Linked DNA regions of Homo sapiens: regions 1 and 3 are each linked to region 2. The links come from fine-mapping of genetic effects on gene expression. A gene starts in region 2. Each other region holds a variant in brackets. All regions are shown on one strand. Distances are between the middles of the regions.

Region 1 (4,000 bases), 81 kb after region 2:
CCAGGGCTCAGCACCTGCTCCTCCCCACACTGGGGTGAAGCTCCAGGGATCCACCCCCCAACACACAGCACCCTGCCAGCCTCTGCTGCCCGTCAGCACTCTCACCGCCGCAAGCAGGCCAGGTGAGGGTAGGCAGGTGAGGAAGCCAGGGCGGAGCCACAGGGCCTTGCCCGCTGTCACACACCAAGCTGGGGGCAGAGCCCTTACGAGTGTGGACCCAGGGCAGGATGTCTCAGAACAACACCCTGCCAGAAACAGACACACCTGGAGAGGCCACGAACCCCCAGAGCTGGGGGGAGGCCAGTGTTCTGAAGGAGAACAAACACTTCGGGCAGCACGCCTCCGTCCCTTCTCCAGGTGAGAACTGGGTGCGTCCAAGATAAACAATTATTTTTTCATTTAAAGCCAATTCCTCATGGGCCTCCGCTGCCACTGTGTTGCCAGCTTCCAACTAACTAAAGGAAAGTCAGAAAATGCAATGAACCAAAAATCAAGAAAAGACCAATTCAGGTTTCCACTATCATATGCCTATCAATCACCTGTCCCATGACTCACAGCCTAGGTCACAATAACCACTCAATGCCTTCTCGCTCTGTGCCAGACACATCTCATTGATTCCTCCATCACCAGACCCTCCTCAAATGTTCTATCTGTTATTCCCATCTTCCAAAGGGAATCTCAGGAGGCAATGTGCCTGAGGTCACTGTGGGTAAAGGACAGGGCAGGAGGCCGGGTGCAGTGGCTCACACCTGTAATCCCAGCACTTTGGGAGGCTGAGGCAGGTGGATCACTTGAGCTCAGGAGTTCGAAACCAGCCTGGACAATATGGAAAACCCCATCTCTACCAAAAATATAACATTTAGCTGGGCATAGTAGCATGTGCCTGTGGTCGCAGATACTTGGGAAGCTGAGGTGGAGGATCAATGGAGCCTGGGAAGTCAAGGCTGCAGTGAGTCATGATGGCGCCACTGCACTCCAGCCTAGGTGACAGAGACCCTGTCTCAAAAAATAAATAAAAATTTTAAAAGGATAGGGAAGGACAGGAACCCAGATCCGTGCTTCCTTGGAACCTGCGCTACTATGAGTTATTTAGTGAAGTGTAAAAAATGAGGACACTTCAGCTGGCTCTAGGAGCCAGTCTGGGCTGGGCACCCAGGCTCCCCCCACTGCCCGCCGCCATCCCTGCCCCGCCCTGTGCTGTGCTCCAGCCCCACCCCTGGTTTCCAGATCAGCGAACACAGCGTCCAGATGAAGCCGGTGGATAAGGACTGGGAATTTCTGGCGTTCTTTCTGGCTGTGCTGCCTGGCTCTGTGCCTGCGGAGCTGCCTCGGTTTCTGCCCTAGAACAAGGAAGGTTCGTTCCTGCATTTGAACCAGACAGACTGGTTTCTCCTGGTTCCTGAGCCCCCAGCCCAGTCCCCCAAGAGAGACCCTGCTCGGAACAGGGCACCCAACACAGGCCTCGCTGTGGGCATCTCTCTGGGTTAATATATTTAACAAATGTCTATGGAGAAGGGGCCAAGAAAGATCTCACTGGCAAGGTGATGATAAGCAAAGACCCAGGGAGGTGAGGGAGGGGCAGGGAGGGTGCCACGTGGGTATCTGAGAACAGAACTCTATGCCTTCACCCCTGGGCCCTGCAGGTCTCTCTTGCTTACATGTTCGTCTGTCCCCGTGTTTCTCTGGAGGTGTCTACATGAATATCTAACTGTCTCTCTCCTACACACACAGGCAAACCACATCCTCCCCTCCTTCCCAGCTCTCTGAGGTCCCTGCCATGCCTCCCCAGACAGGTCCTGCAGATAAACAAAGGGAACTGTCTGGAAATCTCAAGGGCACAGGGCCTTTTTTTTTTTTTTTTTTTTTGCTTTTCTGAAAACCTGAATAATTTGGATTAGGAACTTTTTTTTACATATGAAGACTACAGTGTCAAAAACGACCTTTGCATCTTCAAAGAATTTCCAAACAATTGGGTAACGAAGAGATGTTTTTGTTAAAACCACCTGTGGCATCAGAGAGAAGATTCGTCACAAATGCCCAACCAAGAGGCACTCCTTGCTGCAGTGAAACCCTGTTATTACAGTTTCCCCAGAAGCTGCCAACACTGACAGCCAGACAGGCCAGGTTCCTGCAGGGTGCATGCCCTTCACTGACTCTGAGGGAAGTTTTTCCTCATCTCTTATTGTGGTTTGCAATGTGTTCCCCAAAATATGTTCAAGTTCTAACCCCTAGTACCTGGGAATGTGGCCTTATTTGAAAACAGGCTCTGGCCAGGCGCAGTGGCTCATACCTGTATTCCCAGCACTTTGGGAGCCTGAGGTGCATGATCAGTTAAGGACAGGAGTTTAAGACCAGCTTGGCCAATATGGAGAAACCCATCTCCAGTAAAAATACAAAAATTAGCCGGGCATGGTGGTGGGTGTCTGTAGTCCCAGCTACTCAGGAAGCTGAGG[C/G]AGAAGAATCACTTTGAACTCAGGAGGCAGAGGTTGCAGTGAACTGAGATTGCACCACTGCACTCCAGCCTGGGGGACAGAGTGGGACTCTGTCTCAGAAACAAAACAAAACAAAACAAAACAAGGCCTGGCATGGTGGATCATACCTGTAATCCCAGCACTTTGGGAGGCTGAGGCAGGTGGATCACCTAAGGTCAGGAGTTCAAGACCAGCCTGGCCAACGTGGTGAAACCCTGCCTCTACTAAAAATACAAAAAATTAGCCAGGCATGGTGGCATGTGCCTGTAATCCCAGCTACTTGGGAGAGGCAGGAGAATCGCTTGAACCTAGGAGACAGAGGTTGCAGTGAGCCGAGATCGCACCACTGCACTCCAGCCTGGGCAACAAGAGCGAAACTCCGTCTCAAAAAAAAAAAAAAAAGAAAGAAAGAAAGAAAAGAAAAGAAAATAGTGTTTGCAGACATGCTCGAGTTAAGGGGGGTTATACTGGATTGGGGGCATCTCTAATCCAATGACTGGTGTCCTTGCAAGAGAAATGTGGACACAGAGACCACAAGGGGAGACCATCGTGTGAAGACAGAGGCAGAGACGAGAGTGATGCATTTGTAAGCCAAGGCACACCAAGGCTTGCTGGTCACCACCAGAAGCCAGGAGGGGGACATGGGACAGACTCTCCCTCAGAGCCCCAGAAGAAAGCAACCCTGCCAACACTTTGATTTCAGTAACTGAGACAATATATTTCTGCCACCCAGTTTGTGGAACTTTGTTACGGCAGCCCCAGGAAATGAATAGGTTTTTCTCAGCTGCTCTCTGAATCTGTGGATGGGTGTCATGACCTTGTTCACCTGAGTGACACTGGCATTGGTTCTGTTGGAGGGGTGGCCTATCGACTCCTTGAATTCACGCTCTGGCCCTGCCAACTTAACTAGCTGTGTGACCTCAGGCAAGTGGCTTAGCCTCTCTGTGCCCTTGTCTTCATCTTCCTTCATCTTTGAAATGTATCTACCCCCTAGGGTGGTTTTGTTTTGTTTTGTTTTTGAGACAGGGTCTCACTTTGTCACCCAGGCTGGAGTGCAATGGCACTATTGCAGCTCACTGCAGCCTCGAACTCCTGGGCTCAAGTGATCCTCCCACCTCAGCCTCCCAAGTAGCTGGGACTACAGACATGCACCACCACTCCTAGCTATTTTTAATTTTTGTAGAGGTGGGGTCTCCCCATGTTGCCCAGGCTAGTCTAGAACTCCTAGGCTTAACTGATCCTCCTGCCTGGGCCCTAGGGTAGTTTTGAGCAAGGAACTTAGACCAGCAACCAGCATAGGCTTAATATTCAACATGGCCAGGTGTCATGATCACCCTGAGGGGTTAAGAACATGGGTTTTCAAGTCAGGCCCTGGGCCTACTTTCCTGCATTCGCCACGGTGTGTGAGGCTCCTCAGGAGGGTGAGGCCTCACTGAGAGAATGACAGTATCCACATTCAAGCACCAGGCACAGCCCAGGCAGAGATAAGGACCCACGTCAGTGCCAGCCCCACCCACCTGACAGATAAG
Region 2 (4,000 bases):
TACAAGTGTAAGCTACCACGCCCAGCCAAAAATATTAATTCTTAAATAGAAAAGCTAACAAGATAGTAAAGAATTTGGACACAATCTAGAAGGTGAAAACCAGAAATTAAGCCCAATATTCAAAATGGATTTCATCCTGAGGACTTCTCTGACCTAAAAGCTAAAGTTTCAGTGCCTTTATGAGATAACAGAAACAAGTTCAAGCCAGGAGCCCATCCAGGGAGTGGAGTCTGACAACTACCTCCCTCTCCATCTTAATCTTGTGCCCAAAAGAACTACAGCTTCAAAGTAAAGGTGAACTGGGAAGTAAAACAGCAGGAATAATGGACAACAGAAACAGACTCCCCCAAAGGGAATTCAGACAGTGGAATTAAACATAGAGATTATAAAAACAACTATACTTTCCATGTTTAAAGAAATAAAATTAAGCCTCAAAATAGTAAGAAATAAAAAACTGTAAAAGTGTCACAAACCAAACAGAACTTCAGAAACTAAAAATTGCAATATATGATTTAAGATTTCAGAGGCCGAGTTTAATAACAATGGAAATAACTTGAGAATAAATTATCCAGAATGTACTACGAAAGAACAGAGTAAAAGACATAGAGAAAAGAGTGAAAAGGTTTAGTTAAATCGATAAAAAAAAAAAGAGAAACAATGGGAAGAAGCAATATATGCATATAAAATGGCTGAGAATTTTACAGAATTAATGAAAGACACTAATCCACAGATTCAAGAAGTCTAATAAATACCAAACAAATTGAACAAAAACAAACCCATAGTTCCATAGAGCATAGTGGAAATACAGAAAACCAAACACAAAACAATCTTTTTTTTAAACTTGTCGATACTTGATTTTAGACAAAACAATCTTAACAACATATTCTATAGTAAAGAGTGAAACATAATATTTAAGAATGAAGACAAAGTATGTTCAAAAGGTGACTAATGGTGAACACGTTGAAAATGCTTAATTTAGCTGCCATAAAGGCATAATTACACTATGACTGACCCTGTACGTACATCGCACTTGTTACTTGATTTACCACATACGTGGTTTTCAATAGCTAAAGCAGCAGCTTGATTCTAACCAAGCATCACCATTCTTGGAAGATGAAAGTGAAGACTGATAATCAACTAAATGGTTTTGACACAATTATTCCTTTCTTATATCATGAAGCACTTCCCCACAGGGTAAGGACATGAAGACTTCAGTTGAGAAAGATAATCGGGCAGCCTCTACTTTCAGATCCTTACAAATTGTTCGCAGGTCATCTAACTAAAAGACTGTAAAAGCTGCTGTCGGCTCAATACTTTGTATCAAAAAGGAGTCTACCCACTGATTCCCTTCAAATATTTCAGAAGGGTGCCTTCCATTTTATGGTGTCCCTGTGGACACATGAATACACCAAATAACTGATGAATCGACAAATCTTATGTCACAGGTGGTAGGCAAGAGGTCATCGGGAATTCCGATCACCAGGCTCGCATCTGGCTTCTTGGGTCCCACTCCTGAACTAACCAGTCGGGCTACCCGAGCGTGCGGGAGTCTGAGAAACTGCATTTTAAAAGGGCCCCAGGAGATCTTGTTTTCCACTAACATTAAAGAACCACGACTACGAACAAACAGGTCTCCCCCTTTCCTCTGTGTGGACTGACAGTCACAAGGACCACCAACTCTCAAGCATGACGCTTCAACTCTCTTTGTTTCTTAAGTTTTCTGCAAAACGGGCCAGCTGGCTTGTTTTCCGTAATAGAAAATTCGCTTGGCACAGCAACTGGTACATGGCACACAATAAATGTGCTTCCCATCCTGCACTGCCATTCTGGGATTCAACCATTTCCAACCAGACGCCGCACATCCGAGTGAGTAACCTGGACCTGTTCCAAGACCTCTGGAACGGAGCCTGCTACTCACTTGAAACCTGGGTGGCCCTACCTAGCAGAAAATTGGGGAAACCCCATTAAACGCCCGGCAGTGTTGGGCCCGCCTGAAAGGGTCCTCGCCGCGACCCAGATGCCTTCCCGCGGGCACCCTCAGCTCCCCTCAGGCTGGGCCCGCAAGCCCCAGGCTTCGGCTACTCCGGACAAGGAGCGGGTGCGCGGACTGAGAACAGGCCTGGCCCTAACCCTAACAGCAGCCGCAGCTCATCTCTTCCGTAAGGAAGCTGGAACCCAGGTGTCGCCGCCAGGCCAGGACCGAGGCCGCACTCACCTACCGGCGCGCGGGAGGCGAGACGACCTCACCTCGGCGGCGCCCACCCCAAACCGCCACCGCAGAGCCGCTCGCTCTTAAAAAAGAAAAAAAAATGAAAGGAAGAAAGAAAGAAACAGAGGAAGGAATGAATGAAAGAAAGAAAAAAAAAAAGAAAATAGCCTTTGCTTTTGTATTTCTTTTGACCCTTCAGGGCTTCCTGTTCCTCACCGCCACAATAGAGTCCCGCCCCACTTCCGGCGACGTAACCCAATCCGCGGAGCTCTTCCTCCCCGGGAGCCCGATGGAAATCCGGTACCCTGAAAACGAGCCGGAGAGACTTGATTGGGCCATTCACGCCTCAGGATGAGGACTGGCCAGTCTGCGCCTGGAGGGCGGGCCGGTCCCGCTGATCACGTGACACGATTTTTGAAAGGTGATTGGCTGTCAAGGAGAGGGCTTGCCACCGAGGAAGGGGCGTTTCCTAGGGGACTGAGGGAGGGCTGGGGCGGTACGAAGCGGGGGTGGGCTCTGCGCGTAATGGCAGCGCCGTGGCCTCGCGTCCATCTTTGCCGTTCTCTCGGACCTGTCACAAAGGAGTCGCGCCGCCGCCGCCGCCCCCTCCCTCCGGTGGGCCCGGGAGGTAGAGAAAGTCAGTGCCACAGCCCGACCGCGCTGCTCTGAGCCCTGGGCACGCGGAACGGGAGGGAGTCTGAGGGTTGGGGACGTCTGTGAGGGAGGGGAACAGCCGCTCGAGCCTGGGGCGGGCGGACCGGACTGGGGCCGGGGTAGGCTCTGGAAAGGGCCCGGGAGAGAGGTGGCGTTGGTCAGAACCTGAGAAACAGCCGAGAGGTTTTCCACCGAGGCCCGCGCTTGAGGGATCTGAAGAGGTTCCTAGAAGAGGGTGTTCCCTCTTTCGGGGGTCCTCACCAGAAGAGGTTCTTGGGGGTCGCCCTTCTGAGGAGGCTGCGGCTAACAGGGCCCAGGTGAGAGGCAGCTATCTATCTCCTGGGGTGGCTCCTGGTACCGATGGGGTCCTGACCTACTCAGGGGTGCCCGGGATAGAAAGGGTAGATGAAGGGACGCTTTAGGAGGGTTCTTTTTGTGGAGTTTACGGTCTAGGTGGCACGGATGAGGCATACCTCCCCGGGGAGATTTAGAAACGCCTTGGGATAGAGAGAGAATGGGGCTAGGAAGCAGGAGCTAGAACTAGCGGAATGTCCTACTACGGAAGCCGGAGCTGAAAATTGGGTAAGGACCTTGGGGAGAGGGGATTTCTGGGCGGTGATGGGAAGAAGACACCTCCATCCACAGGAAAGCCAGAGTGGGGAGTAGTGAAAGGGAAACGGGAATTATTCCCTCTCTCTGTAGATCGACCAGGTGTCCCAGACACAGGATCCAACTGCTTCCGGGCTTATTGCCCGAGTGGGGTGGGGAGAGTCTATCCCACCAACACCCCTTGCGTGAGTCCAAATTAGGCATTTGTCTCTCCTGCTGCCTCACTTTCCCCGTCTTTGGGGAGGGAAACCGACTGAGACCGAGGCGGTCGGCTGAGACTCCGAGGTCCTGTCTTGTATAGTTCTCTGAGAGAGGTTGCTCCCCCTGGAGTGTTGTACTTTGAACTTTGAAGGGTTAGAAGTGTCTGTTATCGACTGAGTAGAATCCCGCAGTTTTCCAGGCCCTTTACCTACCATCTGTTCTTGCTTAGTGGAGTGACTTAACCTCCTTAAGTCTCTACTGTAAAATAACCAGCGCAGTATGTGAAAGTACAAATTACAAGCTGCGTGAACGTAAGTTAGTGTGATT
Region 3 (4,242 bases), 57 kb before region 2:
GCACGGACCCTCCTCCCATGACCTTGCTTCCTGGGGACCTTTGGGTCGGGCTGGGTACCACGGAAAGTCAGTGAAGGGAAGCTGTGTGAAAGTGTGGCAGGTGTGGCTACCAACAGGATATGACATCACTGTCACAGATGGTGCTGATTGGGAGCTCCAGGTCAGAGGATGGAATGACCAGGAGGCTGACACATTGGGAACAGGGGAGGAAGAAGCAGGTGCCAGAGATTTGGCAGGAAAGACAGCAGGCTCAGGAGCCCTGTGTGGACTTGGCCTCCTAGAGAGGGGCAGCCAGGGATCTGTACAACATGCAGAGCAAGGGAGGTGGAAGTCATCATCAGCATGGTTGGGTGGAGTCCCAGGTGTCCAGCTGCCCATTCAGCCCATCACCGAGCTGTCTAATGGGCATTAAGACTTAGCATGGCCCCAGTGAGCTCTAGATGCCTGGCTGAGCCACCATCACTTTGTGCCCAGATCATTTCATTAGCTTCCTCATCAGTCTCCCTGCTTCTGCCCTGGCCCCCAGCTGTGTGTCCCCTCCACGGCAGCCAAAGGGATCCTTAGTAGATGTCTGTTGAGTGCACATACAAATGAAATGTGGTCCCTGTCCTCAGGGAGTTCTCACTTAAAGAGGAAGATAAGGAAGAAATCGTCGGAGTTCTGAGAGACCAGTTTACATGTGAAGCAGGAGCTATGGGAGCACAAAAAGAGAGGCATTTTAGGGTATCAGGGAAATCTACAGAGCGAAGGGGCCATTTTGATTGGGCCTTAGAGGATGAGTAGGAGTTTGCTAGAGGAAACAGATTAGGGAGAGATGTTACAGATGGGGGCACAACAGCATTGAAGTTGGAATGTGAAGGTACCCTATGTGTTTGGGGAATAGCAAGTGGCCAGTGGCCAGGGCTAGGGGAGTGGGGTGTGAAGGGGCGTGGGTGGAAGGAGATAAGACTAGGCTCTGGGACTGGATGACACAGGACCTTGAATGCCACAGGAGGGTTCTCATATTAGTAGAGTTTTCCCCAGCTATGAGCAGGAGGCTGAGAGACAGCCAGTACATTCATTCTACTTCCATCTTGACCTCCTGACCTTGGTTTAGTGGCTGGCTGAAGTCTCAGTTTGAGAAGGATCTAGAAGCTGTGCCCAGGCCCATTGGTTAGAAGTACCATTGTCGTGTCTGCCACAGGTATAGATGTGGTCAGGCCACATGTTCACCAGGTCCCCAGAGGTGGGTTGGGCTCATTAGGTAGATGATCCTAACAGCTTTTTCTAGAGGTGGTGAGCTCCTCCTTTCTGTCCTTGGAAGTGTATGAGGCAGAGTGGGCCCAGCCCTGGGCAGAGGGTCGGGTGGTGTCCTCAGGTGTCTTACAGTGTGTTTCTCTTCTCTCTCTGATTAGTGATAAGATGTTTCCAGCTCTGGGATTCGGGGCCCAGTTACCCCCAGACTGGAAGGTGAGTGAAACCGGAGTTAGTTTCCTTTTGGTTGAGATGGGGTTTGTGTGTGTGGCCTCTCGGGGATCAGCTCTGGAAAGGTCTTGGGCTGGGGCCCTGTTGCCCTGCCTTCCCTGTGTTCACCCCAGGCCACGCTCATTTCTCAAGCCTGATCCTTGGGCAGGCACTGAGGCTGTAACGGGGCAGCACGTTATGTTCTCTGTTTATGAGACCCATGTGGAGTGGGGGAGACAGATAGGATTGCCAGATGTCGCAAATCAAAATACAAGACACCCAGTTAAGTTTGAATTTCAGGTAAACAATGTTTATTTTTATGTGTTTATTTTTATTTATTTATTTATTTAGAGACAGAGTCTTGCTCTGTTGCCCAGGCTGGAGTGCAGTGGCACAATCTCCACTTACAGCAACCTCCGCCTCCCAGGTTCAAACAATTCTCCTGCCTCAGCCTCCCGAGTAGCTGGGATTACAGGTGCCCACCACCACCCCGCAGCTAACTTTTGTATTTTTAGTAGAGAGTTTTACCATGTTGACCAGGCTGGTCTCAAACTCCTGACCTCAGGTGATCCACCGGCCTCAGCCTCCCGAAGTGCTAGGATTACAGGCCTGAGCCACTGTG[A/C]CCAGTGCAGATAAACAATTTTTAAAGTATAAGTATGTCCTGAATATTTCATGGGACATACTTATACTTAAATCATCCATTGTTTATCTGAAATTCAAGGTTTTGTATGGATCTAGGGGTACAAGTATAGTTGTATTACGAGGACGTATTGTGTGAAATATGGACTTTTAGTGTATTCATCACCTAAATAATGTACATTGTACCCAGTAGGTGGCATTTCATCCGTCACCCCTCCATCCTCTCGCTGTGTGGAGTCCTCAGTGTCTGTTATTCCCCTCTGTGTGTCTGTTCTGTGTGCACCCATTGTTTAGCTCCGTCTTATAAGGGAGAACATGCAGTTTTTTGTTTTCTGTTTCTGAGTCATAGTGGGCATCCTGTATTCTATATGGCAACACTAAAGACAGGTAGTGTCATCGGTGCTGAGGTGGGGGCACCGTAGGCCTGTGGGGAGCCGAGGAGGTAACCCAACCCAGCTTGGGGCCATCAGGCTTCCTGGAGGGGGCAAGCTCTAAGCCAAGAGGGGAAAGGGAAGTAGCAGAGTGACTAGAGGTGGCAGTGGGGCAGGGGGAGCCTTCAGGGCAGAGAACAGACTGTGCGAAGCCTGCAGGACGAGCTGGAGGAACTGGCAGAGGTGGGTGATAGACCCTCCATTGGAGGTGAGCAGGGTGGAGACAGATGTGGGCGTTAAAGGGCCACGGGGACCCCTGCAGGGACCACATAGGGGCTCATCAGCAGATTGGCATTTCTAAAGGCCTCTCCTGGCTGCTGAGTGGGGCGTGGCTAGGGCGAGAGTGGGCAGAGTGGAGGGTGGAGAGAAGGGGCGAAGGCAAGGAAACTCAGGGCAGAGGCCAGGACTTTCTGTGTGACCAAGTGAGTGTGGGCCGAAGAGGTCACCAAGATTTCCAACTGGGCACTGAGGCGGGGGTGGTGCTGCTTACTGAGATGAGGAACGGGGTGGGTGCTAGGCTCAGCAGGGGAGATGGTAAGGTGGGAGTCCCAGGAGAAAGGTGGATGATGGCTGGGCACAGTGGCTCACGCCTATAATCCCAGCACTTTGGGACGCTGAGGCAGATGGATCATTTGAGGTCAGAGAGTTTGAGATCTTCCTGGCCAGCATGGCAAAACCCCGTCTCTACTAAAAATACAAAAATTAGCCCAGCGTGGTGGCACATGCCTGTAATCCCAGCTACTTGGGAGGCTGAAGCAGGAGAATCACTTGAACTCGGGAGGCAGTGGTTGCAGTGAGCCGAGATCGTGCCACTGCACTCCAGCCTGGGCAACAGAGTGAGACCCTGTTACAAAAAAAAAGATAAGTGGTTGATGGGTCAATGGGTTTGGGCTCTGGGGAGACAGAGAGAGACCTGGCCACCTGGGCCAGGACCCATGGTGCCACCTCTGGGAGGATGAGATTGCTAGGGAGACAGGTGGAGTGAGAAACAGCCACATGAGGCGGGGTGCAGTGGCTCACACCTGTAATTTCATGCTTTGGGAGGCCAAGGCAGGAGGATTGCTTGAGCCAGGAGTTCAAGACCAGTCTGGGCAACACAGTGAGACCCTGGCTTTACAAAATTTAAAAGTTGGCTGGGTGCAGTGGCTCACACTTATAATCTTAGCACTTTGGGAGGCTGAGGAGGGTGGATCACAAGGTGAGGAGTTCGAGACCAGCCTGGCCAACATGGTGAAACCCCGTCTCTACTAAAAATACAAAAATTAGCTAGGTGTGGTGGCGGGAGTCTGTAATCCCAGCTACTCGGGAGGCTGAGGCAGGAAGATCCCTGGAGCCCAGTGAGCTATGAGTGCACTGCACTCCAGCCTGGGTGACAGAGTGAGACTCTGTCTCTAAAAAATTAATTAATTAATTAATTAAAATAAAAAAAGAGACAGCTGCATGAGAGAGCCAGGCAGATGAAGCGGAGACTGAGCCCGGGGGCAGAGCAGGGAGGAAGTGAAGGAGGGAGGGGCAGAAAGCAAACCCATAAGTAGCAGCATTTATTGGGCCCTTAGAATGTTCTAGATACCACTCTGCCTGCTTTACCAGTTTCAACTAATTCTCACCAAAGCCAATGAGGTAGGCCCTGTTATGAACCCATTTTGATCGTTGAGGAAGCCAAGCAGTCAGGGCTCGGGGAGGAGGGAGTGGGGTTGGAGGCTGCCCCTGGGCCTGGTGAGGTAAGGCT

Evidence for each region. PIP is the estimated chance that this variant, and not a neighbour inherited with it, causes the effect.
Region 1: its variant is the best candidate, but not a certain one, in a credible set for the expression of PSME3IP1 in subcutaneous fat (FUSION, PIP 0.60).
Region 3: its variant is the best candidate, but not a certain one, in a credible set for the expression of PSME3IP1 in whole blood (TOPMed, PIP 0.69).

The regions. Positions count from the first base shown.
Region 1 is chr16:57,265,019-57,269,018 of GRCh38, forward strand. The region is part of intron 1 of PLLP (plasmolipin); the gene reads right to left. Among named protein-coding and RNA genes, the nearest start is that of PLLP, 18 kb to the right of the region's middle. The variant C/G (reference allele first, on the strand shown) is at 2,454.
Region 2 is chr16:57,183,606-57,187,605 of GRCh38, forward strand. It overlaps PSME3IP1 (proteasome activator subunit 3 interacting protein 1), which reads right to left and starts at 2,434. Exons shown (of 7, transcript NM_024946.4): 1 at 2,216-2,434. It overlaps RSPRY1 (ring finger and SPRY domain containing 1), which reads left to right and starts at 2,724. Exons shown (of 15, transcript NM_133368.3): 1 at 2,724-2,846. RefSeq lists enhancers at 2,059-2,108, 3,420-4,000 and a silencer at 2,809-3,018.
Region 3 is chr16:57,126,455-57,130,696 of GRCh38, forward strand. It overlaps CPNE2 (copine 2), which reads left to right. Exons shown (of 16, transcript NM_152727.6): 12 at 1,395-1,449. Among named protein-coding and RNA genes, the nearest start is that of CPNE2, 36 kb to the left of the region's middle. The variant A/C (reference allele first, on the strand shown) is at 2,066.